Linked DNA regions of Homo sapiens: all the other regions are linked to region 7. Evidence: fine-mapped expression QTL. A gene starts in region 7. Each other region holds a variant in brackets. All regions are shown on one strand. Distances are from middle to middle. Region 1 overlaps WNK1 (WNK lysine deficient protein kinase 1). Region 2 overlaps LINC02455 (long intergenic non-protein coding RNA 2455). Region 3 holds the start of LOC124902855 (a long non-coding RNA gene). Region 4 overlaps WNK1 (WNK lysine deficient protein kinase 1). Region 5 overlaps NINJ2 (ninjurin 2). Region 6 overlaps LINC02455 (long intergenic non-protein coding RNA 2455). Region 7 holds the start of WNK1 (WNK lysine deficient protein kinase 1).

Evidence for each region.
Region 1: its variant is fine-mapped to the expression of WNK1 in whole blood (INTERVAL, PIP 0.94).
Region 2: its variant is fine-mapped to the expression of WNK1 in whole blood (TOPMed, PIP above 0.99).
Region 3: its variant is fine-mapped to the expression of WNK1 in whole blood (TOPMed, PIP above 0.99).
Region 4: its variant is fine-mapped to the expression of WNK1 in monocytes (Quach 2016, PIP 0.95).
Region 5: its variant is fine-mapped to the expression of WNK1 in whole blood (TOPMed, PIP above 0.99).
Region 6: its variant is fine-mapped to the expression of WNK1 in whole blood (TOPMed, PIP above 0.99).

Annotation. Positions count from the first base shown.
Region 1 is chr12:876,478-880,543 of GRCh38, forward strand. It overlaps WNK1 (WNK lysine deficient protein kinase 1), which reads left to right. Exons shown (of 28, transcript NM_018979.4): 10 at 1,735-1,884; 11 at 3,096-3,554. Among named protein-coding and RNA genes, the nearest start is that of RAD52, 71 kb to the right of the region's middle. The variant G/A (reference allele first, on the strand shown) is at 1,839.
Region 2 is chr12:695,650-699,715 of GRCh38, forward strand. All of the region lies in intron 1 of LINC02455 (long intergenic non-protein coding RNA 2455), which reads right to left. The region is part of intron 1 of LOC101929432 (a long non-coding RNA gene); the gene reads left to right. Among named protein-coding and RNA genes, the nearest start is that of LINC02455, 19 kb to the right of the region's middle. The variant C/T (reference allele first, on the strand shown) is at 2,517.
Region 3 is chr12:929,444-933,509 of GRCh38, forward strand. RAD52 (RAD52 DNA repair protein) reads right to left here. Exons shown (of 12, transcript NM_134424.4): 2 at 3,532-3,633; 3 at 1,777-1,878; 4 at 608-701; 5 at 376-443. The coding sequence starts at 3,615. It overlaps LOC124902855 (a long non-coding RNA gene), which reads left to right and starts at 1,870. Exons shown (of 2, transcript XR_007063155.1): 1 at 1,870-3,362; 2 at 3,398-4,066. The variant G/A (reference allele first, on the strand shown) is at 1,688.
Region 4 is chr12:779,081-783,146 of GRCh38, forward strand. The region is part of intron 1 of WNK1 (WNK lysine deficient protein kinase 1); the gene reads left to right. It also overlaps the pseudogene RNU4ATAC16P. Among named protein-coding and RNA genes, the nearest start is that of WNK1, 29 kb to the left of the region's middle. The variant TAACAACAAC/T (reference allele first, on the strand shown) is at 2,020.
Region 5 is chr12:574,321-578,386 of GRCh38, forward strand. All of the region lies in intron 1 of NINJ2 (ninjurin 2), which reads right to left. Among named protein-coding and RNA genes, the nearest start is that of NINJ2-AS1, 55 kb to the right of the region's middle. RefSeq lists an enhancer at 1,775-2,276 and a silencer at 1,805-2,074. The variant A/G (reference allele first, on the strand shown) is at 1,932.
Region 6 is chr12:683,950-688,015 of GRCh38, forward strand. LINC02455 (long intergenic non-protein coding RNA 2455) reads right to left here. Exons shown (of 4, transcript NR_187480.1): 2 at 46-264. Among named protein-coding and RNA genes, the nearest start is that of NINJ2, 23 kb to the left of the region's middle. RefSeq lists enhancers at 1,376-1,495, 1,766-1,855. The variant G/A (reference allele first, on the strand shown) is at 2,142.
Region 7 is chr12:750,542-754,607 of GRCh38, forward strand. It overlaps WNK1 (WNK lysine deficient protein kinase 1), which reads left to right and starts at 2,038. Exons shown (of 28, transcript NM_018979.4): 1 at 2,038-3,783. The coding sequence starts at 3,025. RefSeq lists enhancers at 1,094-1,193, 1,244-1,293, 2,051-2,769, 2,770-3,488 and silencers at 1,934-2,083, 2,164-2,543, 2,554-2,933.

The DNA.
Region 1 (4,066 bases), 130 kb after region 7:
TATTTTAGCATTCTTTTGGTGATTTTAATTGACATAAATATAAGAAGAGCAAAAATATTATTTGTAGATTATCACCTAACAAAATCTAAGACACTTATCAAGGTGGCAAGATACATAATAAATGTACAAATAAATAGCTTATCTTTATACCAGCAGTAACCAATTAGTCGTATGGGTATACCAGCACATACGTAAAAGGCTGTTGGTTGCAGCATTATTTTAAGTAGCAAAAATGAAACAACCAAAGTGTTTATCATTAGGAGACTGATGCCATTTAGAAATTAAAGTAGTATGCTATAGAACACTATGTATAGGAAAGGCATGTTTTTGTTTTGTTTATTTTAACAAAAAAAGAAAACTATGTGAAAATGGCCACTTACGCATAGAAAAAAATCCATGAAGGTTATGCACCAAACGACTAATAGTGGTTACCTCTGGAGAATAGGATTAGGGGTATTTTCATTAACTTTATAATATGATGTACTAGTTAAAATTTTTATTACAAGCAGATGTTGTATTAAAGAAAAAATATAAATTAGGTATTAGAAGATCTTGAAAGTCAGCCCTAAACTTCATTTTTTTTTTTTTTTTTTTTTTTTTTTGGAGACAGAGTTTCGATCTTGTTGCCCATGCTGGAGTGCAATGGTGCAATCTCGGCTCACTGCAACCTCCGCCTCCCAGGTTCAAGCAATTTTCCTGCCTCAGCCTCCTGAGTAGCTGGGATTATAGATATGTGCCACCACGCCCGGCTAATTTTTTGCAATTTTAGTAGCGATGGGGTTTCTCCATGTTGGTCAGGCTGGTCTTGAACTCTGGACCGCAGGTGATCTGCCCACCTCAGCCTCCCAAAGTGCTGGGATTACAGGCGTGAGCCACCGCGCCCAGCCTCAAGTTTTTATTTGTTAGACAGAAGGGGCAGTACTCTAGGGGTCATAGTCCTGTTTTGTTTGGTTTTGTTTGCTTGATTTATTACAGAATTTAGTATTCGAGTACAGTTATGTTCCATGCATTAAATTAGGTGTATAATTACGCACCATGCATTAAATTATACTTGAGTCCCTAGTACATAGTAGATTCCCAGGTGTCATTCCCTTTGCCCCACTTTGAGTTAAAAAATAATGTCCTTGTTTCAAAAAGAGAAACTTCATTTTTTTAATAAAATAAGCAATCTAAGGCATTAACAGCTAGTAAATATTAAAGCTAAAATTTGAAAATGTCTGTTATTCCAAATCCAGTGCTTTCCTCCCTATTTTGTAGCTATAATCAAAGCTATTCTTCAAGCATATTAATTATACAGTTGATAAAATAGGGTAAGGAAAAAAGATTAAAGGAAGCTATTGGATCTATCTGATATAGGTGCCAAAGAGAGAGCTGATGCCAAGAGATAGGGAAAAGGGAATGGCAGGGATGGGATGGGGAAAGGAACTGTCTGGATATGTTATGTAAATGTCTTTGTAAAGACCTATTGTTGGGGTGAGGGAGATAATTGGGTGAAGAGCCAATGGTAACTTGAGTATTAAAAGATTGGTTAATTTTTCCTGGTGGCACCATCACAAAGAACATCAGAGGGAAAACAAATATATAATGGAAATTGATGAATTTGGGTTTGTGCATGTCTTGATTACTAAAATCATCATTATTTACAGACACTGAAGGCTTTAGGTAAACATGCTTCCTTAGAAACATGCTGTTATTGATTTGAAATAAAACTGAATCATTGTATTTTATTCTTAGCAGCAGGGAATACAGCAGACAGCCCCTCCTCAACAGACAGTGCAGTATTCACTTTCACAGACATCAACCTCCAGTGAGGCCACTACTGCACAGCCAGTGAGTCA[G/A]CCTCAAGCTCCACAAGTCTTGCCTCAAGTATCAGCTGGAAAACAGGTAAACTTTTTTTTTTTTTTTAAACAGGTAAACTCTTAATTTCTGAAAGGGTGCTAAAAGGGATTTCCATGTAACTTGTCCTTTCATGTGGATAGACTTCTACCTTTTCTTCTAAGGGTAACCAACCCTTGAAGTAGGTTAATCTCATTGCAGAAATGAAGTGAAGATCACCTCATTGGTGCATATGCATTATTTAATGTAAATGGGTACGTTACTGACAGCAGTGACAATCCAAAGTTTCACTTCTAGTCTTACCAGTCCAAAATTGATGTAACAGGTATTAGAAATAACAGGTTAAATAAAGGTGCTCTGGTAACTGAACCTATGACATTCCCTAGAATTGTGTCAGCTATGTCTGATATTCTAGGTTTGAAACTATGCTTTATTTTCATGTAGATTTCTGCACTGTTTACTGTGTGGAATGTTTTTTTTTCTTAAGTAGTCCTCCTAATCACTTGAGAAGTACCCTGTAGAAGGTATGCTTTTCTGAATGACCTTTTTTCAACTTTATTTTTGAGTACTGTTGTGCATGTATGTGCACAGTGTATTGTTACCCTAATATTTCATCACATCTGAGATGCTATCAACTTTAAAATGTACCATATTTTATGTACCACATTATCAGTTATAAAGTAGATCCCAATTTCTCACATGTTAAAATGATCAGGTAGTGGAGAGGGATGATTGCATCCTAGAATGAGTGAAATATGTGAATTATACCAATTTTTATTGAGCCATGTTGGACTTAAGAATTTTAGAAATAATACGAATGAAATCTTAATTCCACTGGGAAGGAATTCATTTGAATTTCAGTAACTACTGTAACAGCAGTCGTAACTTTAGTGATAGCATTATGGTATATAAAATATATTCCAATAAAGCTGTTAAAAAAAAAAGCCAACCCCTTGTCTATGGAAGGGTCCTCTTCTATTGCCAAATGCTGAAGCATTAGCAAATATTTCTATGACAAAAGGTGTAGAACAGTAATAGTCTATTTAGCCTCTTTCTCTCCTGCTCTCCTTTCCATATTCTTATGTGGCATATTAACTTAACACTAATGTATGCAGGGTTTTGTTGGTTTGGTGTTTTTTTTTTTGTTTGTTTTTTCCTTCTTTTTGGCTAATACATAAATCTTGCTTTTGGCAGCCTTGCTTTTTTTTTTTTTTTTTTTTTTTTAAGCCTGTCTGTTTTGTTTTTCTTTACCTTCCCAGCTTCCAGTTTCCCAGCCAGTACCAACTATCCAAGGCGAACCTCAGATCCCAGTTGCGACACAACCCTCGGTTGTTCCAGTCCACTCTGGTGCTCATTTCCTTCCAGTGGGACAGCCGCTCCCTACTCCCTTGCTCCCTCAGTACCCTGTCTCTCAGATTCCCATATCAACTCCTCATGTGTCTACGGCTCAGACAGGTTTCTCATCCCTTCCCATCACAATGGCAGCTGGCATTACTCAGCCTCTGCTCACGTTGGCTTCATCTGCTACAACAGCTGCGATCCCGGGGGTATCAACTGTGGTTCCTAGTCAGCTTCCAACCCTTCTGCAGCCTGTGACTCAGCTGCCAAGTCAGGTTCACCCACAGCTCCTACAACCAGCAGTTCAGTCCATGGGAATACCAGCTAACCTTGGACAAGCTGCTGAGGTTCCACTTTCCTCTGGAGATGTTCTGTACCAGGTATTGTGTTAGTTAGCAAAAGAGGGCACCACAGAGTTTGATCCTAGTAGATCATCAGGAACATGGAAATCTAATAGTTGAGTGTCAGAATAACTAGCAATAACATGTCAACTAGAGAAGCAAAATAGTAAAATTCTGAGAAAGGATTGGATAATGATGTTCAGTGATTCCTGATCCATTTTTCTCAAGACACTTCTTCAGAGAAAAATGGTTCTCTCAGTATTCACTGTAAGCTGATTGAATGCTAGATGTGGTTAATAGTACACCTGGCAACTTTTACATATATGGGTAGAATAAATAGAATAGCCAACATGGTATCAACAAAAAGCTTCGGGGTTTAGACTGGGAAAATTAGCATTTCATGATATGACTGTTATGTGGAAGAATTTTTGCATTTTTCCATTTAAGATTGGCTAGGAAGAAATTGTGTTCCTCCTATTTAAATCATCTCTAGGTGAAGATAACCGACAATAAAGTAGTATTGTAGAGTCCTGTCTCTTCTGTTGGAACCA
Region 2 (4,066 bases), 55 kb before region 7:
AGTTTCAGTTGACTGAAAAAGAATTCCCAGAAACGGGATCCCAGGGAGAAAAAGCAGAAAGGCCCTTTTTGTCAATAAAAATTATGCCCTGAATATCAGCTTTTAATTAAGCTGATTTCTAACCATAGAGCTCTTTAAAAAAATCTTTTCAAATCTTTTATCAGATTTCAGCCAGGACAAGTAGAAAGTAGGTCTCCCATTCTGTTTGGTTCTAAAATAGCTTTTTTTTTTTTTTCTGATCTATCAAAGGACCTCCGTTTTGGCTATTGTAATTTAGGGTCATCTGAAGTCCTGTGGGCCCATTTGTTCAAATGTCTGCAAGACAAAGCTCCGTAAGTGTTATACAGAATATCAGCCGATGTTTCCAAGGGAGGCTGCGTCGTTAGAGAGTCTTCAGACTTGAATAGGTTTGTTACCCATAATTTAGAGGCCTGAATCACTCACAGCCAAGTTCTGGGCTGTGTTTTGGGTCAAAATGTGCTGCTTGTGAGTGTGACTCCTTAGTGTGTCACTACTGAGTTGTGTCCACGTTTTTATGTGTCTCAGAAACATTGATCCCCAGAGGGTCACAAAGTCCTCACGAGTGCTAAGTGGCCAGCCTTTATGTGCACTTGTTGGCAGAGTGAGAGAGATTACGGATGTTCTCCTGAGAGAGGAAACCTTTTAAGGCACGAAAGTCCCAATACCCCCAGCAAGTCGCTAATTGTTTAGGGTGCCCTAACGGGCTGGAGGGAGCGAGTGCCTTTTATCTTTGGAGTGAAGAATCCACTCTCATATATTAGAAAAAGGGAATCTAAGAGAGGTTGGTCATGCATAAAAGTTTGATTTCCAAAATGAAAGGTCATGATGTAACAATGTCTTGGCCGAAAATGGAAGCAAACTGCTAACTCCAGACCTGTGAGTTGCCAGAAAAATATCCTGATCTCCTGACTTAAACAGGAAAGTCAGAGACAGAACCCTCATTCAGAGAGAGTCAAAGAGAAACCGCTCAAAGTCTAGACCTCCACCAAAGAAACGGGAGTCTGGATTCAGGAGAACTCACCCGCAACACCAATGAGACTTCTGAAGATGGAGAACGCAATGGGTTTGTGCTAGTACCAACCACTGCCTTCAGAGAAAAACAATGGGTGGTTGCTGTGGGGGATTCACTCTGAATCCTGCTGACTTACGCCAGCTATATCGACCTAAAGGAAAATACATTCTGAGTGGAGAGTTTACCTGGGCCAAGTTTGAGGACTGCAACCCAGAAGCATAGATTCAAGTTGCCCTGAATCTATCCTCCCAGTAGCAGCAGTTGTGTTTTTTTTTTAATCTAGTTATTTATTTATTGACTGGGTTATGAGACTGGCTAAGTTTTGTATTTTTGATAGAGATGGGGCTTTCACCATGTCACCCAGGCTGGTCTCAAACTCCTAGGCTCAAGTGGTCCACCCCCCTCAGCCTCCCAAAGTGCTGGGAATACAGGTGGGAGTCACTGCACCTGCCTACAAGTGGGTTTTTCTTTTTTCTTTTCTTTTTCTGGAACTTTATTTCTTCTAACAGGTACAAGTGGTAGTAGCCTTTTCCTTCTTTTAAAGGAAAAGAAAAAGGCAGTTCCTAAACTATTTACCAAGAATTTACATAAAAATAACCTAAGATATTGATTGGCTATACATTGTTATTTGTATCACACATCCCAGGAACATGAAGATAATGGGTGAGGCAGCTAGTCAGGAAACTATAGGGAAGAAAATAAAGAACAAAATCCCTTTAAACAATTGCATCCGGGGCATGGAGGTGGGGTTTGGGGGATATAGGTGGTTGTGGGGAGGGTGACTTAGAGACCCCTCTGAGCTATTTTTCTTTTTTCAAGTAGGAATAGAAGTGTGATGCTGGAGAAGGAAACCTGGACCAAAATGTGGTGTGGGTAACTTGTTTCTCTTTTCTGCGTCTCAACTTCCTCCAGCTCTATTTTTCAGAGAAGGAAGTTGCATGGGAAAGGAAATGGCAATCAGGTTTGTCTAGCTGAAGCAGTCTAAGCTGAAGTATAAAAAAAATTAAGGTGGGCTGGAGCGAGAGGAAGGCTGGGGAAAGCTGGTGAGGTATCTTGAAACCTGTGTTAAGGAATTTCCCTGGCTTAGAACAGGGCAATTGGTTTTTACCATTAAAATCCCTTTGGTTTTTACCATTAAAATTCCAAAGTTACAGCCCTCTCTTCCTCTTTGTAAATGTTGGTTAGCCACTACTGGACATTACCAATCCTCAGGGGAAACTAGTTGAGATTAGAAGAAACAATTGTAAAAAGCAAAGTAGAGGTTCCTCTTCAAAGACTTTCCTCCCCATCTAATTAGGAATAAATAGTAACTTCTCTTAGAAGCAAAATTTATTCAAAGACCTGTGTTAATATTCTTAAATATCTCTAGCCATAATAAAGAAATCAATGTACTTTATGTTCTTAGTTCCCACAATTTAGCCTAAATATTTGCCCTGCCATGCTTCTACTGGTCCAAGCAAGCATTAGGTCATAGCCTGTTCTT[C/T]TTCCTTATTTGAAGGTGTTTTTACCTTTCTCAGCATTCCACAAGTTACTTCCTCCTTCCTTTGTCCTCTTCTGCCTTTGCCTCTCTTAAAAAGTTCTAAGTTGCTAGCCAACTGGGACAAATACAGAATGTGAGGTCCTGTTCCAGCCAATGGAAACCGACACAGCAGTAGGGTGGACGCATCAGATTATAAATGACCCTGTCTCCTTTGTTCAGTGTACTCTCGTGGCAAAACTGCTGGCGAGTGTACCCTTTCTGCAGAAAGTGAAAATGGCCTTGCTGAGAAAATTAAATTTATGTTAAGTGCTATTTCTTTACAGCACCAGGGAACAAGCATTTCTAACACAACTTTACACACTGGTAGTAATAGCAGGTCTGCAAGGTTGACTCCAGCAGAGAAAGTCAGGAAGACAGTTAGTGCATGCAGCCAAAGAACTACAAACATAGGGAGGAGCCGGAATAGTCAATTTCAAAGAAAAGATCCTTCCAGTACACAGAATTACAATCTCTGAACACAACTCCCTGGCCTCAATTTTGATTTTAATTGACTGCATGGCTCAAGATAAAGGGCTGGTAAATTGAGACCTGAATTCTCCTTCAGCAACAACCAGGGAGAGCTGGAGGAATGGGTGGTAGTATACTGTAATCACCCATTTTTCAAATTAAGTCTTTAAGGCCCTAGTAAGCCAACTGAAAGGAATTCTTAGTTCCTCAGGCTAAAAGAGCACAGAAGTTGCTATGTGGGATGGGCACCTAGTGCCTCACGCCTATAATCCCAGCACTTTGGGAGGCTAAGGAGGGAGGATCACTTGAGGCCAGGAGTTTAAGACCAGCCTGGGCTGGTGAGACTGTCTCTACAAAAAATAAAAAAATTAGCCAGGCATGGTGGCACATGTCTGTAGTCCCAGATACTTGGGAGGCTGAGAAGGCAGGATTGCTTGAGCCTAGGAGTTCGAGGCTACAGTGAGCTATGATTGTACCACTGCACTTCAGCCTGGGTGACAGAGCAAGACCCTGTCTCAAATAAATAAATAAATAAATAAAATTAGCCAGGTGTGGTGACACATGTCTGTAGTCCTAGCTACGTGGGAGGCTCAGGCAGGAAGACTGCTGGAGCCCAGGAATTTGAGGCTGCAGTGAGCTCTGGTTATGGGACTGCACTCCAGCCTGGGTGACAGAGTGAGGCCCCATTTCGATAATTTAAACAATGATTTTTTAAAAAAATGTTGCTATGTGGGCTGGGAGTGGTGGCTCACACCTGTAATCCTAGCACTTTGGGAGGCCAAGGTGGGTGGATCACCTGAGGTCAAGAGTTCAAGACCAGCCTGACCAACATGGTGAAACTCCGTCTCTACTAAAAATATAAAAATTAGCTGGGCATGGAGGTGGGCGCCTGTAATCCCAGCTGCTCAGGAGGCTGAGGCAGAAGAATCACTTGAATCCAGGAGGCAGAGGCTGCAGTGAGCCGAGATCACGCTACTGCGCTCCAGCCTGGGTGACACAGTGAGACTCCGTCTCAAAAAAAAAAAAAAAAAAAAGTTGCTATGTGA
Region 3 (4,066 bases), 180 kb after region 7:
GTTTTCATCAATGTTATAACAAAAGGACCTGCTTTGCCTAAAGTTGAGTTTCCAAACACTTATCAGTGATGGTAAAATTATTGTATTTTAAAATGTCAGATTTTACCATATGCCAAAAAATACATCCTTTGCAACAATTTTTATATATGGTGAAAACTTTTAGGTGTCAGCTTGAACATGTGCAAGAGAACAGTTTTTCCATTCTTTTAGGGAGCACATGAGCAAGAGTATTTGAATTCCACCACTCTAGGGAACGCTGGCTGAGACACAACTCTGGAGCCTGGGTCCCCGTCCAGCTACCTACTTCCCTACCTGCTCACCTTCTCCTACCACCCACTGATCCTTCCGGGCAGCAGGTCTACTCCATCCCCTCACCTTCAGCTGGACCCTCACAAATGCACAGACTCCCACGTAGAACTTGCCATTGTTGAGGTCAACAAAATCTAGGAGTGGGAAAGAGAGCAAGTTGAAGAGGACACTGACCGCTGGGCCACAACCATTCCTCCTGCTGGCAGCTGAGTCCACCTACCTTACCTCCTCACCCACAGCAGACTTTCAGCAGGAGCTGGACAGTGCAGAAGTCCCCACTGCTGGAGAGCATACTCACCCACATTCTGCTGCGTGATGGAGTGTGCCCAGCCATTGTAACCAAACATCTCATTGGCCAGATTAATTACCCGATGACCCTCAATGTAGCACACCTAGAAAAACAAATGTTTTTAAGGAAAAGCTGTGTTAATTCCTTACCACACTTAAATGTGAATCAAAATTGACATAATTTATTCCTCATCTACTTTTTTCGATAAACTGTCCTTAAACATTCTTCTCGGGAGGCTGAGGTGGGAGGATCACTTGAGCCCAGGAGCTCAAGGCTGCAGTAAGCTAGGATCGTGCCACTGCACTCCAGCCTAAGTGACAGAGTGAGAACCAGTCTGTTAAAAAAAATTTTTTTTTCAAGAAAATTCTCAATGAATTTATTTCAAAAATCTTCTAGATGGAGCCCGCGAGAACGAATGGTCTGTTGGGAGGAGGAACTCACCCAGCAGTTGCTAAAATTCAGTTTGCAAAAAGTACAAATCTGTTTGACATATTTTATGGAAGACCAAAAATATACACAGAAGTTAAAATTAGAAGCAAATGATATGCAATTATTATGTGTCAATCATAAGTTCTTTAAAAAGTGTTTAATTAAAAAAAAAAAGCAAATGGCAAAAGGAACATTTTTTTTTTAATGGTGTAAAGGCTGGGCATGGTGGCCCACACCTGTAATCCCAGCACTTTGGGAGGCCGAGGTGGGAGGATCACTTGAGCCCAGCAGTTCGAGATCAGCCTGGGCAACATGGCGAGATGTCGTCTCTACAGAACATTAAAAAATTAACCAGGTGTGGTGGCGTGTGCCTGTAGTCCCAGCTAGTCAGGAAGCTGAGGCAGGAGGATCGCTTGAGCCTGGGAGGTGGAGGCTGCAGTGAGCTGAGATGACACCACTGGTCGGACTCCAGCCTAGGTGACAGAGCAAGACCCTGTCTTTAAAAATAAAAAAAAAAAAAGATGATGTAAAAATCTTAAGACGGCGGTTATGCGAGTGTCAAGACCATGCCCAGGCCCCTTCGGATGAGAATGAAGTCTGGAACCCATCCCCTCCCAGGGGCACTGGGAGACCTCCAGGAACAGTTAACAGCAGACTTCC[G/A]AATCCCTGAGGACCCAGAGAGGGAACTGGCAAGACCATCGGAGTCTGCGGTATGGATGCCTGCTTTCCAGGCACATGAATTCTCCTACCTTCTGGCCTCCGCCAGCCATGCGGCTACTTATGTATTCTGGGCCCAGCCTCTGCCTCAGGGCCTTCTGGATGGCCTGGTACTCTTCTGCTGTGTACTGGCACTGCAACCCCAAAAAAGAAAATTAAATTCACACTTCCACCATTCCTCACATCATTGAGTCTCCATCCTTTATGGAGACTTTATACTCTTAAAAAGACCCCCCAGAACCTTTGTTTATGTGGGTTCTATGTATCCTATTAGGAATCAAAACTGAGAAACTTTTAAGGCATGCATGCCATTAGGCATCATAGCAGTGACATCACCACATATCATGCACTCTCTGAAAACTCTACCATTCACTCATGAGACAATGAGTGTGAAAGAGGCAAATAGTATTATTATGAAGATAATTTTGACCTTCTGGACTCTGAAAGATCTTCAGAAACCCCAGGGTTTTTGAGAACTGCATTTTGAGAACTGCTGCCTTAGCTGCTGCTACCATCCTTATAAATGTTTCTGAAGCTTAGGAAGCTAAAATGTTCTGCCTCCAGATCTGTAAATGACGTCAGCACAGGAAGCAAGTACGGAAAGAGCACGGGGGTAGGAAGCCTTGCTTCCATTTGTCCTTTCCAGAGATTGACGCCTTCTCCAATACAACAATTTCCCATCCTGCACAAACAGAAACACACTACTGCTTGCTGATTTGGGTTTTGTCCCCCTTGCCCTGCTCAGATGAGATGAATACTCACAACTCTCTGCTAAAGACAAAGATGGAGTTTGGGTGGACAAAGCAAGAAACTCTTTTCTGTGCACACAATGTCCCTACAAGGAATAGGACCCCCAGTAACTTTCCATGCCTCCAAGAAAGACAACTGGAGCCAGGCGCGGTGGCTCATGCCTGTAATTCCAGCATTTAGGAGGCCGAGGCAGGCAGATCACGAGGTCAGGAGTTCAAGACTACCCTGGCCAACATGGTGAAACCACATCTCTACTAAAAATACAAAAAAATTAAGCCCGGGCGTGGTGGCTCACGCCTGTAATCCAAACACTTTGGGAGGCCGAGGCAGGCGGATCACCTGAGGTCAGGAGTTCGAGACCAGCCTGGCCAACATGGTTAAACCCCATCTCTACTAAAAATATAAAAATTAGCTGGCCATGGTGGTGCATGCCTGTTATCCCAGCTACTTGGGAGGCTGAGGCAGGAGAATTGCTTGAATCCAGAGGGTGGAAGTTGCAGTGAGCTGAGATCGCACCACTGCACTGCAGCCTGGGTGACAAAGCAAGACTCAGTCTCGAAAAAAAAAAGAAATAGAACTGGGTGGCATGCACACAGGGGCAATAGGAAATAGGGAGATTTTCACAGTTTCATTTTGAATTTGATGTCATACAAATATGTTATCTATCCCCCCCCACAAAAAATTTAAAATCTAAATCTAATCCCCAGTACTATCAGTCTTTTGATAGCTAACATTCCAAAATGCCCTCCAGAGTTCACAAGACTCCCAAAAAATGCATCTAAAGGAAAAACCAATAACAAATAGCTCACACATGTACTATGTAAACGTACTAGGTACTGCCCCCGCACGCACCGCGTCAACGTACTAGGTACTGCTCACACACGTACTAGGTAAACGTACTAGGTACTGCTCACACACGTACTAGGTAAACGTACTAGGTACTGCTCACACATGTACTACGATGCTCTACAAACTGCCTTGCCCTAACTTTACTCACTTCACCTCATTCTTTCCCGGCATGAAGGAACCACAGTTACCTGTCCAAAGCATAACACTGAGCCGCCGCCAGCAGCAGGATGGCTGTCACGTCCTCCAAGAATTGCTTCCTCAGTCCCAGACATCTTGATTCTGGTTGACCTCTATATAAATAAAAAGCGGAAAAAAAAAACAACCCTCAAAGAATGTTTAAAGTAAAAGGCAAGAGCCTCTACTGAAAAATCACATAAAGAATCCTTATGCGGCCAGGCACAGTGGCTCATGCCTGTAATCCCAGCACTTTGGGAGGCCGAGGTGGGTGGATCACAAGGTCAGGAGATGGAGACCATCCTGGCTAACATGGTGAAACCCCCTCTCTACTAAAAATCCAAAAAAATTAGCTGGGCATGGTGGCAGGCGCCTGTAATCCCAGCTACTCGGGAGGCTGAGGCAAAGAATTGCTTGAACCCAGGAGGCGGAGGTTGCAGTGATCTGAGATCACACCCTGCACTCCAGCCTGGGCGACAGAGCGAGACTCCATTTCAGGAAAAAAAAAAAAAAAGAATCCCTATGCAATACCCTAAGAGTTATTTATAA
Region 4 (4,066 bases), 29 kb after region 7:
AAGTTCAGTGGGAGAGCATTCTCTTCTGTTAAAATTGCCACTAATTATGTGTTTTTTCTAAATCATATTGTCTGCTTTTCTCCAAAACAGTTGAATAATGTACTCATTTTCATAAAATTTTAGAAAAATTAGTGAGTAAATTTTTGGCAGTTATTTTATTTGACATGTGAGTGGTATTTGCCTTCAGATTTCGAATTCCCTGTTGGGAAAGTAATATGGTTATGTTGCTGTGACTATAATATTAAAATGCACAGACACACTATAAATTCCCTTTCCCTTAATTTTCTTTGCCTTTCTTTTCTTTCTTTTCTTTTCTGTTTTTTTTTTTTCTTTTTTTTTTTTGAGACATAGTTTCACTTTGTAGCCCGGGCTGGAGTGCAGTGGCACGATCTGGGCTCACTGCAACCTCTGCCTCCTGAGTTCAAGTGATTCTCCTGTCTCAGCCTCCTGAGTAGCTGGAATTACAGGTGCGCGCCGCACCTGGCTAATCTTTGTATTTTTAGTAGAGACAGGGTTTCGCCATGTTGGCCAGGCTGGTCTTGAATTCTTGACCTCAAGTGATCCACCTGCCTCACCCTCCCAAAGTGCTGGGATTACAGGCGTGAGCCACCGCGCCTGGCTCCTTTCCCTTAATTTTCTGAAAGAAAAATTCACATACAGCCGTGTGAATTGACTGGACTGTGAAATTAAAATAATGGATTTTTTTGGTCTTTATACTGCAAGTTTGAGAAATAAAGAACAAAGCATTTTCTCTGTGGATGCGAAGAACTCTGTACTTGACTCAGCTTCCTTTTTCTCTTGCCTGCATTTTTTGTTTACTTCACTGGCTTGATTAGTCATAATAAGGCTCAGTACCTCTGCCATTCCCAATGTTAAGCAATTTTTTAAAATTTGGAATTTTGTGGATAATCATTAACAGAGTTGCTTAATGGGTAATGTTGTTTTCTTTATGGAAATAATTTGAGGCACCTTTTCTGGGGTTCTTGGCAAGAAATATGAGTTTATTATGGATATTTAGGAAAGAGGATGTAGAAATAAACCTTTGTTTGTAGTATGAAGCTGTGATAATCTGCCCCATCTTTGTCTAATTCCGTTTTAACTTCTGTCCTTAACATGTTTCTCTTCTTAATCAGTTGTCAGTGAAGATTTATTTATCAGGAGATGGGAATGGAGTATTTTGGATATACTTCAAGTTTTGAATGATAACCGTTAAAATACATACAATGTTTTAATAGTGAGATACACTGATCACAAAAATATGGTCTGATTTAACTTTATTTTGTGGTACTTTTCTTCTAAGTTTAGACAGATGATAGAAATTCACAAAAATTTCAGTCATAGTTATGGCCACAGTTAGGCATTCCCAAAGGAAGTGTGTTGCATTCCTAAGTGTAGTGTGTTGCATGCACTACTGAGCATAATGGGAAAAGAAAAGTGCTATAAAAACCTAAGTACCAAGTAACTAGCTAGAAAAAGCTTTTAATGGGAGAGCTGGCATGGTCATTAATCTGGTAGAATAGTATTTGAGGAAACAGTTGCATGTGTTAAGCTGCAGTTTCTTTTGGTTATTGAAAACCAAATAGGAAATTCTGAATTAATACTTACATGCTGAAGTATCTTTGTGGAGCTTATTTTGAGCGTTAGAGTGGGAGACTTAGTTCTAATGCAAACTATAGAAGAATGACCTTGGGTAAGTTTGTTGTCTAATTAGTAAACTGAGTGGTAGAGTTGGATAATCCTGTCAGCTTTAGGCCCATGCCTTAAATATGCTTCTTATCCTCTCACAGTCAAAAAGGATTTTTACCTTGGTACAGTCTGATTCCTGCAACACCTCTCTAGTTATTGAATGTATAGTAGTTTGCTATAGACAGACTACTTTGCAGTGGCTATCAAACCTTTCTGAGACTCATTCTAAGAAATACATTTACATTGTGACTTAGTATATGCACACATAAAAAGAAGAAAGTTTCACAAAATAGTTTCCTTACTAGCAATGAGCTGTTTTTTGTTTTATTTCGT[TAACAACAAC/T]AACAACAACAACAAAAACTGCTAACCATCTTTTTCTTGGGGTTGCACTACTGTCCAATGAGCACATAGTGAGGGCAGTACTGCTAACGCCTACATAACATGCCTGCATCATCTAGAGCTTTGCTTTACCTTGGTACAATTTTTGGAAGAATGAAAAACTGCTTTTCCACAGGGGGAAAATACTGTTTACTGCCCATCTTTGAAAAACATTTTACTTAGAGCATAAACTTGAAGCTAGATCCTTTTAACCACTTAATTAAATCATACAGTAAGTTGTTGATAGCTATTTGCCACAAAATGAAAATATAGTGGCTATATGAATTTTAGCTGCTGTCACTGTTCATTAATCATAACATAAGCTCTGAACACAGTGTTTCTTCTTAGAAAGGTACAAATGATTATGATTTTGTATAACAACTGAAGTTAGGTGTGTGTGAAGTTTTATAATTGCTGGTCTTCATTAGATAAATTAAATTATAATTAAATGATCTGTTTTATTTTTGCTTTTTATTTGGTCTCTTATTAATAGGCACAATACTGGCATTAGCTATAACACAAACCAATGGCACTAAAAATCTTCAGAACCTTTTTGGATTTGAGTTTTTGAAAGATATTTTGTGGAGACTACAGATTTAATTTTAAAGTATAAATATGCTCTTATTTTAAATAAATGGGGTTTATACTTTGTGTTCTAATGATTGAGATAACTTTTTTTTTTGAGAACTTAAATTAAAATTCCCAGTCTTCTCTAGTTCTGTCAGATTTCTTTGTTCCCCCTCCCAGTGGTTGAGTTCTTATGGGATTTGTGGCTTATTTTTAAAATCCAATGATTAAAATGAAGTTTTCTGGCAATATTAATATTTGTGTGAATCTGGATATCCTCCTCACTTAACTTCTAAGGCTTTTTCTTCATCTGAAAATGACAATTTTGTATACTTGGCTGGATTATTTTAAGTAACAAGTAACAAACACTGTGGTAGACTAACATTTGAGTTTGAAGTTTCATATAATTTTAAATCATTGTCATCGACTGACTTTGGAAAGTAACTTCTGAGATTTTTGGTCTGAAGTGACCCTGAAAGTTTATGACCTAATTATCATTTTATTAGGTCTGAATGTGAATGTTGCACTTTGAGAGGAAATAGTATAGAAGTAGTTACATTGCTGGGTGACTGATCTAGCAAGTCCCTAACAGTGCCATTAAGCTGTCCTGTAGTACATCTTATTTAGTTCTCTCAATAACTACATAGTATGTTGTCAGTCCTATTTTATAGATGAGAAAACCAAGGGAACAATTTGATAGAATAATGTTTCCAAAATCAGAGATCTAATCTTAGAAGGCTTAGTTGAATAACATTGGATATATTACTCTGCGGTTCCTAAGTCTATGAATTAATGGGAATTTTGAAATCTAATTGAAATCCAAGGAGAAAGTGATAGAAATAAAATTGTAGTGAGCGATGTCGGCTCACTGCAACCTCCACCTCCCAGGTTTAAGCGATTCTCCTGCCTTGGCCTTCCGAGCAGCTAGGATTACAGGCATGCACCACCACGCCCAGCTAATTTTTATATTTTTATAGAGACGGGGTTTTACCATGTTGGCCAGGCTGATCTCGAACTCCTGACCTGAAGTGATCCACCTGCCTCAGCCTCCCAAAGTGCTGGGATTACAGACATGAGCCACTGCGCCCAACCTAGTTTAAATTTTCTAGTAGCCACATTTAAAAAAAAACAGGTGGAATTAATTTCATGAATATGTTTCATATAACCCAATATATATCCAAACATAGTTTCTTTTTTTTTTTCTGAGACAGGGTCTTGCCCTGTCACCCAGGCTGGAGTGCAGTGAGTGGTGCACGATTATGGCTCACTGCAGCTTCGAACTCCTGGGCTTAAGCGATCCTCCAGCCTTAGCTTTCCAAGTAGCTGGGACTACAAGCACGTGCCACCACACCCTGCTAATGTTTAAATTTTTTTGTAGAGACGGGGGTAGGGTGGGTCTCACTATGTTACCCACACTGGTCTCGAACTCCTGGCC
Region 5 (4,066 bases), 180 kb before region 7:
CTCAAAAAAAATAATAATAATAACAATAATAAATTTGTAACAAAAGCAAATATGCACTCTGCTATGGTCTGAATGTGCCCCCTAAAGTTTATGGGTTGGAAACTTAATCCCTGCTGTAATAGTGTTGAGAAGTGGGAACTTTAAGAGGCAATTGGGTCACGAGGGCTCTGCCCTCATTTATGCCATTATCATGGCAGTGGGTCAGGTTATCTCAGGATTAAAAAAAAAAAAAAGGTGAGCTTGGCTCCCTTCCTCTCTCTTGGGCTTGCAAGCTCTCTGGCCCTGCCACCTTCTACCAGGGAAGGATGTGGCATGAAGGCCCTCACCAGATGCCAGTGCAATGTTCTTGGACTTGCCAGTCTCCAGAACCATGAGCCAAATACACTTCTATTGTTTATAAATCACCCAGTCTCAGTTATTCTGTTATAGCAACACAAAACAGACCAAGACATACCCCCAGAAGGCCAGTGGTTAAGATAAACATGTTAAAACAAAAGTGAATTTATGACTTCATCTCACCCAGACCCTAGCTGGTCCTCCTCTGAAGTGGGAATAATATCTGCCCTGTCTAGCACAAAGTGCTGTTAGAAAGATCAATAGGATCATGTGGGTGAATGTGCTTTGAAAGCTGTGAAGTATTAAACAAATATGAGATGAGAGGGAAATCTATCCCACAGAGGATTATACTCCCACGTGTGGGCCTAGAGGCATTTCAAATACTGTGTTGTGACTCAGGGCCCGTCCCAGCCCCAGTTTTGAAGTAGGCACCATTTATGGTCCTAACAACTTCCATGGTGTTTGAAATGCCTCCTGTACCCATTGGGCAGCCTCTCTCCTCGCTCCTGCTGGCTCTCGCCTTCGAGCCGCCTGCAGGAAGGGAAACACTCACACAAGCCCACCTGCATTGGGTCTCCAGGGTCATTGTTACTCAAGCGTAGTCCTCTCTCCTGGGGCCCCCACCCACCTCTCTAGCCTGGTCCCCAGCTCCTCCTCCCACCCCTGAAGAGCGAACCCTGTGCCCTGTGCCAGGCTCTGTGATGCTCAGACGTGCAGGGCCACACCAGATTACTCACTGTTCCCTGAACACACCCCACCCTTCCCAGCTGCTCCTGCTCTGCTCCAGGACTACAGGCCTTTCTTTCTTCACCATGCTCCCCCCAGGGAGAGCCTCCCCTCCTTTCTAGACCCTGTCCCCAAATGCACTCCACCAAGGCCCTGTTTGAAAGAAGGTCGCCTGCTCCCTGGCCTGTGCTGGCCTTGGGCGTTGTTGAGTCCTCCTGAGACGGCTCCTTCTGCTGCCCACTTTAGCACACGGACCCCATCTTCCACAGGCCTGAGTCTCCATGGAGCCTAGCTCAGCACCTTGCCCACATGAGGTACACAATGAATGATGATCGCATTGAATTTTTATGAGACAGCTTTTTCAAAAAAGGCAAAAGTAAGGCTCTTTAAGGGTGGGGCTTCAGGCACAGTGGCTTCTGGGTGGGGGAGAGGAGTTTGGGGAGTGAATCTTTGCTCTTAAACACCCCCACTGCAGGGAGAGCCCTTTTTCCCCTAGATCCTGCCTTTTCTCAGCAGTCCTGAGGGAGCCTCAGGGAATGAATGACTGGGGCTGGAAGCTGCAGCTGGTCTTCAGGCCAAAAGCTGTAAAAGCCCAGACCCCTGAGGCCTTCTGTCTGGGGCAGGCCGCATGCAGGCTCCTGACTGCAGCCAAGAGCAGTGATCTCGCCCTTAAAAATCAACAGTCTCTAATCCACGTCGGGGTGGGGTTTCTTTTGCGTGTTATTCCAGCAATAATACGTAACTGGTCCAGAAACCGCCTCTGAGCCCTGGGCACAGTCTCACTGAGAGTTCCAGCCCTTGCCCCGAGCTGCAAACTGGGGCCTAAAGCTGCAGCACCGAGAGGCCACGTGGGGCGAGGCCTCCCCGGA[A/G]GGCCTGCGGCGCCGCCGTTGTCCACCAGGGGGCGCCAGGAAACGGCGCGGCGAGGCCCCAGCTCAACCCGCCCGCGCGGGCACACCCGGGCTTTGACCCCTTTGTGATCGAGGACACGGACGGGTTTCTCTCCAACAAAAGGGGGCCATAAATTACAAACGGAAGCAGAGTGTGTAGGGAAGAACAGGAAAGCACGTGCGTTGAAACCGGAACTCGGGCCTGCTTGCTTGCTTATTTATTTTAGTTATTACTGTTTTCTTGGGGCAGGCCCTTGCTCTGTCGCCCAGGCTGCGGGGTGGTGGCCCCGTCATAGCTCACTGCAGCCTCAACCTCGGGGCTCAAGCGACCCTCCTGCTTCAGTCTCCCAAAGTGCCGGGGCTGCAGGCGCGAGCCGCCACCCCGGCCTCCGTGCTCTTTCTCAGGGAGCATTTTCCACCTCCCCTGCAAGAGGCCGTTTTGCCAGTGGCTTTCAGAAAAGACTGTTGTCATCTCGGGGTTCAGAGTTAATCGTGGATTTACCTACCACACAGAAATTTCCAAAGAATCGATCTGCTCCCTCTCAATATCCACCCTAAACAAGAGCACTTTCCCAATCAGCGCCTTGTCCTGGGGCTTCCAGACCCATCTGGCCTTTTGCTCTTTGCTCTATGCCCACTTGAGCTGTGAGGTTCTCAGAGACATTCCCCAAAGCCCTCCCAGCCGATCTCTGCTGACTTCAATCCTACTCATCCCTCAGGGGCTAACAAAATTGTTAAAATTTAAACAGTAATAATTAAATAATGATATTGCTGTATGTCAGGCATGACTCCACAAAGCAGGTATTAATACAGATGGTCCCCAGCTTTCGCACCATCGTAAGTGATACACTTTACAAACTGTCCTTCGAGTAGCCATACAACCACTCTCTTTTTCACTTTCAGTACATTATTCAATAAATTACACAAGATATTCAATAGTCTCTTATAAAGTAGGCTTTGTGTTAGATGATGTTGCCCAGCAGTAGGCTGGTGTAAGTGGGCTGAGCACGCTGAAGTTAAGCTAGGCTAAACTATGAAGTTCAGTAGGCTAAGTGTATTAAATGCATTTTGACTTACAATATTTTCAACTTACTATGGGTTTATCAGAATGTAGCTCTATCATAAGTTGAGAAGCAACACTAGTCTCATATATATATATACATATATATATATAAATATTTTGGCACGATCTTGGCTCACTGCAACCTCCACCTCCTGGATTCAAGCAATTCTCCTGCCTCAGCCTCCCAAGTAACTGGGATGTAGTCCCATTCTACAAGTGAAGAAGTTGAGGCTCAAAGAGGTCAAATGCCCAAAGTCACCAGATACTGAGGGATGGCCCCAGTGTCTAAATCCTAAGCCTGCGTTTTTCTCCTATATGCCAGTGGTTCTCCATGTGTGCTCCTTGAAGTAGCAGCAGCAACATCACCTGAAAACTCACTAGAAATGAAAAATTTTTAAATTTTTGTAGAGATGGGGTCTCACCATGTCGGCCAGGCTAAGTCTCAAACTCCTGAGTTCAAGCGATTCTCCCACCTCAGCCTCCCAAACTGTTGGGATTACAGGCGTGAGCCACTGCACCAGGCCCCGAGATCACCCTTTTATTTTTATTTTTTTTTAAGACAGGATCTCCCTCTGTCACCCTAAGGGAGGAGACCATCCCTCACATTGTCTTATGCCCAATTTCTGCCTCCAAATAAAGAAGAAGTAAAAACTAAAAGGCAGAAATGAAATCCACGAGCAGACAGCCCGGCCCCATACCCTGGGCCTGGTAGTTAAAGATCGACCCCTGACGTAATCAGTTATTTGTATAAGAAAAGCACTGTGAAGATCCCTGTCCTGTTCTGTTCCGTTCTAATTACCGGTGCATGCAGCCCCCGGTCACGTACCCCCTGATTACTCAATCAATCATGACCCTCTCACGCGGACCCCCTTAAAAGTTGTGAGCCCTTAAAAGGGACAGGAATTGCTCACTCGGGGAGCTCGGTTGTTGGAGATGTGAATCTTGCCAAAGCTCCTGGCCGAATAAAGCCCTTCTTTCTTTAACTCGGTGCCTGAGGGGTGTTGTCTGCGGCTTGCCCTGCTACAACCCAGGCTGGAGTGCAGTGGTGCAATCA
Region 6 (4,066 bases), 67 kb before region 7:
TATCTTATGAAAGACTGAGAAATCCTACAGAAAAAAAAAACCCACCTATTTTAACTTTGTTTCATCCGGCGTTCACAAATGCATCTGTGCATGGATCACTTTTTTGCTCACTGCCATCACCACCTTCCACGTCAACACGGGGAGTGCTGCGCCAAGGCAGCGTCTTGGCCTGTGAATCACAAGCCACGGACTCTTTTGTGTGTTTCTGCCACAGCATTGCTGAGTAACCTGGTCAGCCCTCTGTTGGGGTCTTGATTTCTCCACCTGAAAAACGAGGACGATAACACTTGTCCACACTTAAGAGAGATGAGCTAGATAATGTCCATGAGGGCTTTGACCCTTTAAAGCAGGTTCTATAGAAACAATGTTATTATCTCAACCACACAAGCACGATGGGATAACAAGTCACATCATTAGATTCTATTATACACACCCGGACCCCGCAGAGGCACCACACTTAGCTTTCTGTCCTGGTCCCTGAGGGCTTTACATACATTTCATATGCTCCAGTAAGCAAACCCATTCCATGCTGGTTCCTGCTGCAAACAGACCAAAAAGGAAAGAAAGGAAATACAGAGAAGCAGACAAAGTGCAGAAATAGAGAATGCAGGAACAGCAATGGTTAACAGTGACTGAGTACTTACTAGGTGTTACCCACGTGCAAGGCAGTTGAAACACAGTGTTTAAATCATCCCATCTAGGGCTGGGTGCAGTGGCTTACGTCTGTGATTCCAGCACTTGGAAGGCCGAGGCAGGAGGATCATTTGAGCCCAGAAGTTTGAGACCAGCCTGAGCAACACAGTGAGACCCACATCTACACACACAGACACGCAACACACACACAGACACACACACACAAACTGACCCATCTAGCCCTCACCAAAATCCTAAGGAAGACACACTTATTATGACAATATTGGAGGTTAGAGAGTGTGGCTTGCCCAAGGACATACAGGTATTACCTGAACAAGCCTGCCTGATTCCAAAGCCTACATGACATTGTTTCCTAAGGTAGTACACATAAAATAATCTTAGGTGGTAAAAAAAAAATTATTTTAATAGTTTTGCATTTTAATGTATATTTGAAAAAACATCATATGTATTGCAAAGCCATGGTTCCATTAAAAAATATCATAGGTGAAGATAAGAAAATAAGAAAGTCTAATTAAGAAAATAATAGTACAACTGATATGTGGACACGTCAAAAATCATGAAGGTGGTGTGCTAGTGAATGAAGCTGGGGAATCATTGCAATACATCCTTCTACCTTCCAAAAACCTTCTACCTCCCAAAAAAGAGAAGGTAAGCCAAAGCCCAGTTAGATTCACCTTAACCAGGCTTTTTGTTTGTTTTATTTTGTTTTGTTTTGACTCTCACTCTGTCACCCAGGCTGGAGTGCAGTGGCGTGATCATAGCTCATTGCAGCCTTGAACTCCTGGGCTCAAGAGATCCTCCTGCCTCAGCCTCCTGAGTAGCTGGGATTACAGGCGTGTACCACCATGCCTGGCAGACTCACATCAACAAGCCTTTGAGCTTGTTTCTGACTCCTCTAGGCTCAAGTGCAAGAGAGGAAATGAAGTTGAGTGAAGGCTGAAGGTTGGCAACGGTTGCTATGTTTATCTGCGGTGGGGAGGTGGGGGCAGAGAGGCATGTCTGTGATTGTGAGATCTGATTCACAGAAAATCACAGACTGACAAGCACCATCTCCTACAGAGAAGGAAACAATATCTTTAAATTCTTGGCAACCCTCTCCCTGACCTTCCAACTGTGCACAGCTGCCTGGTTCATCTTTCAGCTCTGTAGAGAAGGGGAAGGTCTTAGTTAAGACTTCTTGGTTGCAAAAGCAACCCACTCAACTAGTTCAAGTCAAGCAGAAAAAAGAAAGAAGGGTTTTTGTAGATACTGGGTTTTGTACAGACCACCAAAAGATGGGAGCTGGAGTGGGAGTCAGGACCCATGACTGCTCTTTGTTTTTTGGGGTCTCTCATCTCTGCTTCTCTGAGGTTCTCCTTCATTCTCTCTTTCTGAGCTTCACCAGGCATGACCATCTGGCCCTAGCCTTACATCACTTCTTTTTTTTTTTTTTTTTTTTTTTTGAGACAGAGTCTTTCTCTGTCACCCAGTCTGGAGTGCAGTGGTGC[G/A]ATCTTGGCTCACTGCAAGCTCCGCCTCCCGGGTTCACGCCATTCTCCTGCCTCAGCCTCCTGAGTAGCTGGGACTACAGGCACCCACCACCACGCCCGGCTAATTTTTGTATTTTTAGTAGAGATGGGGTTTCACTGTGTTAGCCAGGATGGTCTCGATCTCCTGACGTCGTGATCTGCCCGCCTCGGCCTCCCAAAGTGCTGGGATTACAGGTGTGAGCCACCATGCCCGGCCATCACTTCACAATTCTAGCCCCTACCGGACAAGGCCCAGTGCTTCCAGGCCTCAATTCTAAGCTGCCATTAGCAAGTCAGATTGGCCCAGCTAGAGTCAGGAGTTCACTGCTGCACAGTGCATTATAGCTAGGGTAGGTCACGGTGTAAGCAATTAACAGGTCCTTCTGAAATCCAGCATCCTCACACTCAATGGTTCCTATGATTTCTAATGGGCAAGAGCTGGGTCAACTTCCCTGATACTGTGGCCACTATAGTCCCAGCTTTCCTGCTCTTTCAGTACGGCAAGTTGTATTTTGACATTTGAAATAAAGCATTGGGTTTCCTGCATCAGTAACAATGCTTCTTTCATTCTACCAACTTTGGTCACCTTGAGTCTTGAAGACGATTGATACTTACAGGGCGATAAACATGTAATCATTTGGCATAGAGAAAAAGGGTTAAGAAGCTGTGCTATCAGGAATGGTTATAGAGTACCCACTGGCACCATGTAGGGGGGCTCTGGGAACAGCTGAAGTGATGATGTTGATTATGATGCTAAAGATGATGGTAACAGCAATAAAAGAATTGAGAAGGATGGGTCTCCTGAAAAAACATAAGAATACAGATAGAGAAAAGGAGCACAAATAATAGATCTCCACGTAGTGAAAATAATCTTGAGCTAAGGACTCAAAGACTTGGGTTCTAGACTTGTCTTTGTCCCTTAACTACGTGAGTTAAGATCATTCACGTAGTGATCTTAGACTAATCACTTGGCTAGTTGTGGTCCATATCTGTAAAAATCGAAATGACTTTCTAAGCCAGAAATTTCTGGGATCCTACGGTCTATAATTCTATGCCTGGAGGATAAAGTGGATCTTGGAATAAATGAGATGATTAAAGCCAGGCGAGGATTAGCAAGGTCTGGTTTCTTAGGAGATGAATCTTCAAGAGAGATTCAAAAGGTGTGAGGACAGCCTTTGGTGTGCAAACCCAAAAGTATCTGAGAAAATCTCATTCAAGCCAGTCGCAGTGGCTCAGGCCTGTAATCCCAGCACTTTGGGAGGCCGAGGTGGGTGGATCATGAGGTCAGGAGTTCGAGACCAGCCTGACCAACATGGTGAAACTATACTAAAAATACAAAAATTAGCCGGGCATGGTGGTGCGCACCTGTAATCCCAGCTACTCAGGAGGCTGAGGCAGGAAAACTGCTTGAACCCAGGAGGCGGAGGTTGCAGTGAGCCGAGATCGCACCACTGCACTCCAGCCTGGGCAACAGAGTGAGACTCAGTCTCAAAAAAAAAAAAAAAAGAAAGAAAATCTCATTCAATTTAAAAAGTATATTTTGCCAAGGTTAAGAATGCACCCATGACACAGTCTCACCCCAGGTGGTTAGGATACAGCTTGCTTTTATACATTTTAGGGAGATATGAGACCTCAATCAATACATGTATGATTTACATCGGTTTGATCTGGAAGGGTGGGACATCTCAAAACAGGGGGCTTCCAGGTTATAGGTAGATTTTAACATTTTCTGATTGGCAATTGGTTGAAGAGTTATTATCAATAGAAAGAAATGTCTAGGTTACAATAAGGGGTTGTGGAGACCAAGACTTTATCGTCCAAGCAGCAGGCTTCAGAGAGAATAGATTACAAATGTTTCTTTTTAGACTAACAAGACTTAAGATCTGTGTTAATGTTAATGCTGGTCA
Region 7 (4,066 bases):
TGGTGATTATCAAGGGACTTGTGTCCAATGCAGTGTGGCCAAAGTTTCAGGGCTCAGTAAACAGGAACAGGCAATAATAAAATCCTTTAACAACCACTCACACAAAAATATCCTAATTTTTTCATGGTGCCAAAAGGGAACATTGTGATTTACTGATCTTCTTTTAACTTGCCAATTTGTAATTAGCTGCCTTATGTTTAAAATCAGACTATTTTTCCTAGTGAAGCAACAATTGGGTAAGTTTTATTTTACTCAAAAGTACAATAAAAATGTATTTTACAGCCATTTCTTCCCTTGCTTACATTAGGTTTACGGTTAGAAAAACACTCTTAATTCCATTTGCCATAATGAGATTATTTACCATTACCAATAGCAAACGAATGAAAGATACATTTTCTAAAGCAATGGAACACTAATATTTTAGTACTCTAGTTGTCCCTGCTGAATCGGCATTTTAAAATGTTCGTAACCTGTCAGCTTCATGAAACCTAACGATCATTGGTTTAAAACATTTTTGTAAACTTGAAAGTGTAGCTTGTGATAAACAACAAAAAAAGAAAGAAAAGAAAAATAGGGTTAAGTATTTTACGTATCAGATGAATTAACATGAACTGCAGGGCAAGACTTCTGTAGGTGGAGCTCATCCGATAACTGTGCTAAGGAACCTCCTGCCGAGTTCCTTGCTAGCTGCTCGCTCGCAGCGTGGTCCTCGGCCCCGACGCGCGCTTTCGAGCTTGTTCCGCAGCGGGCGCTGAAGAGAGGCGGCCGCGTCCGGACGCTCTGATGCGGTTGCGTACGTTTTCAGCGCTTCCCGCTCTCCACCGGTTGGACTGAGGCTTTTAAACTGCAGTCTGCTCCCGAGTCCGGCTTCCTACTCGGTCTGGTGCCCCCTGGTGCTCGTCCCCTCCACATCTTGAGTAGTTGCGAAGAGCACAGGGGTCCAGGCAGACAAGGATGCTTTCAAGAAAAACATTCCATGGCGGCAAGCCGCATGGATCCACATTTCCCGGGCCCAGAGCCTTTGTAGACATTGCATGTGGACATTCAGGAGCTCTAGAGAAAGAGGGGGTGTTGTTTCACGAAGCCACCAGCAGAAGAAAGGTGGAAAATAAGTTTCAACCAACTACAAAGGCAGAAGTCAGCCCAGCCCCCCAAGTGTGGTCAAAGACCCATAGATCCGTAGACCTTATCTTTTCTTGAATCCACCGCTCCCCCAACCCCCCTTTTATTATTTTTCAGACAAAGCAAAGATAGAGTTCACTAGGATCCCCGATTTCAGTAAGGCAGCCCTTTTTTGAGAGCCAGAATATCCGTCTCGGCCGGGAGCTGAGAATGTGGCCTTAATTGATGAGGGGAGGAGGATGGAAGGTAATCCTCCGTGTCTCCTCCTCCAATCCGTTTAATCAATATTAATTTCATGCACAATCTTCACAAAGTTTCTTTTCCCCTCCTCCGACTCAGAGCTCAGGCTCCGGTTATCCTGCTTTGCCCTTCCCTTCCACCCTCACAGCCCTGCAGTCACTCAACACTACTGAGGCTCTCTCCATTAAAGATGAACAACAGATCATTTTTCATTGCATGGCAACCCTAAGAGCTCTCTAGCTTAGCAGAGCATGATGGGAGTCTTTCCATCCCCCCCCCCACCCCCCGCCCGCTCGTTCCTCTTCTTTTTTTTTTTTTTTTCCTTCCTTTCCTTCTTCCACAATTAATCCCTAAATAATGATTTTCCTAAGCTCGCGCGGACTTCGGGATGGGGTTGAGCGACCCGTGATGACGCTCCCATCAGCCTTTCAGAAGGGACGGTTTCCAAAGAAAACTACAACTCCCACGAGGCATTAGGCTACAGCAACCGCAAGGCATCACGGAAGTCGTAGGCACTTTTCTTCTAGGTCCCGTTCATCCCCGCCAACCCGTAAACTATAAGTCCCAGGGTGCCTCGGGGCTAGCACGCCTGCGCAAAAGCCCCGGAGCGAGTTGGGGGGTGGGGCTGCTCCGGGCGGCGGGGGGCGGGATCCGAGCGGGCTGTGTGGAGGCTTCAGACTCCCGGCGCCATTTAGCGCGGAGAGTTTCCCGGGTGGACGCGGCTCCTCTCTCGGCCACTCCGCACCCCCATCTTCGGTGACAGAAGGCGCCTGGTGGGGGTGGCTGCTCTTTTCTCTCCCTGTTCCCCCTCACCCAGTCCTCTAGGTCTCCTCTCCTCTTGCCTCAGAGAAGCAGCGGAGCTCGGGCCCCGCGGTGAGCGGCCCTCCCCTCCCCGCCGTTCCCTCCTCCGTCAGCCCCCGGCACCGGCCCGGGAGGAGACGGGTTTGCCAGGCCTGGGGCGGGCGGGGAGGCCTCGGGGAAGGGGGGGCCCGCTCCTCAGGCGCCGAGGCTCCGAGGCTCCGGCCCTTCGCCTCTGGGCGATGGGCGACCTGTGAGGCCGGTCCCCATCGCTGGGGGCGCGTGTGGGAGGAGGCGGCCGCCCGAGTGACCGGGAGCCGGGCCGCGGCCTTCCCTCGCCCGCCTCGGCCCCTCCCACTCCTCTGCCCCGGGGCCGCCACCGCCCGGGCGTCGGACCTGGTCCCGTGCTCGCGGTGCCGCCGCCCTCTGGGCCTAGCCCGCCCAGCTCGGCGAGCGGCGGCAGTGGGAGCCGCGTCCGCCGCATCCGCCTCGACTCGGTGCCGGCCCCTGGCCCTCCCCTCATGACTGCGGCGCCTCTGCTGCCACCGCCCGCCCGGCCGCCGCTCGCCGCAGGATGGATGCGGACCGTGCGGCGCTAACCCCCGTGGCTCAGCTCCCGAATCGCCCGCCTTCGAGCCCTCCTCGTGAGCCGCAGCAGCCTCGGTGCCAGCCCCCGCCGCAGCTGGGCCCAGCGGTCCGCCTGTCCCTCGTTGCGGCTTGTCGGTGCTGAGTGAGGCGTCGTCCGGGTCGGCGCGAACCCGCCCGGCCGCGGTTCCCTGCAGACCTCTGCGCGGGCGGCTCGGCCCTTCACGCCCTTTTCGTTCACGAATCCGAGCCCGCTCGCCTCTCTCCAGCGAACCGACCATGTCTGGCGGCGCCGCAGAGAAGCAGAGCAGCACTCCCGGTTCCCTGTTCCTCTCGCCGCCGGCTCCTGCCCCCAAGAATGGCTCCAGCTCCGATTCCTCCGTGGGGGAGAAACTGGGAGCCGCGGCCGCCGACGCTGTGACCGGCAGGACCGAGGAGTACAGGCGCCGCCGCCACACTATGGACAAGGACAGCCGTGGGGCGGCCGCGACCACTACCACCACTGAGCACCGCTTCTTCCGCCGGAGCGTCATCTGTGACTCCAATGCCACTGCACTGGAGCTTCCCGGCCTTCCTCTTTCCCTGCCCCAGCCCAGCATCCCCGCGGCTGTCCCGCAGAGTGCTCCACCGGAGCCCCACCGGGAAGAGACCGTGACCGCCACCGCCACTTCCCAGGTAGCCCAGCAGCCTCCAGCCGCTGCCGCCCCTGGGGAACAGGCCGTCGCGGGCCCTGCCCCCTCGACTGTCCCCAGCAGTACCAGCAAAGACCGCCCAGTGTCCCAGCCTAGCCTTGTGGGGAGCAAAGAGGAGCCGCCGCCGGCGAGAAGTGGCAGCGGCGGCGGCAGCGCCAAGGAGCCACAGGAGGAACGGAGCCAGCAGCAGGATGATATCGAAGAGCTGGAGACCAAGGCCGTGGGAATGTCTAACGATGGCCGCTTTCTCAAGTTTGACATCGAAATCGGCAGAGGCTCCTTTAAGACGGTCTACAAAGGTCTGGACACTGAAACCACCGTGGAAGTCGCCTGGTGTGAACTGCAGGTAAAGCCCCACCTACTTTATTTGACGGTCCTTTGGATCCCAAATTTGGCTCGGCGAAGCCAGTTGATCGAGTTCACCCTTCACTTGGCATTCTCTGTTGGACTCCGAGTGGGACGGGGAGGCCAACTTTTGAAAGGGGCTGAAATTAGGAGAATGTGGAGCATGTGCCTAGGTGTTGGGATAGGATAAGAATTATTGGTAGCCAGAGGGATTTGCTACCGGGCAGCGGTGGTGAAGGTCATCTTAGTACAAACGAATTGTCTCCTGGTTTAGAGTCTGGCAG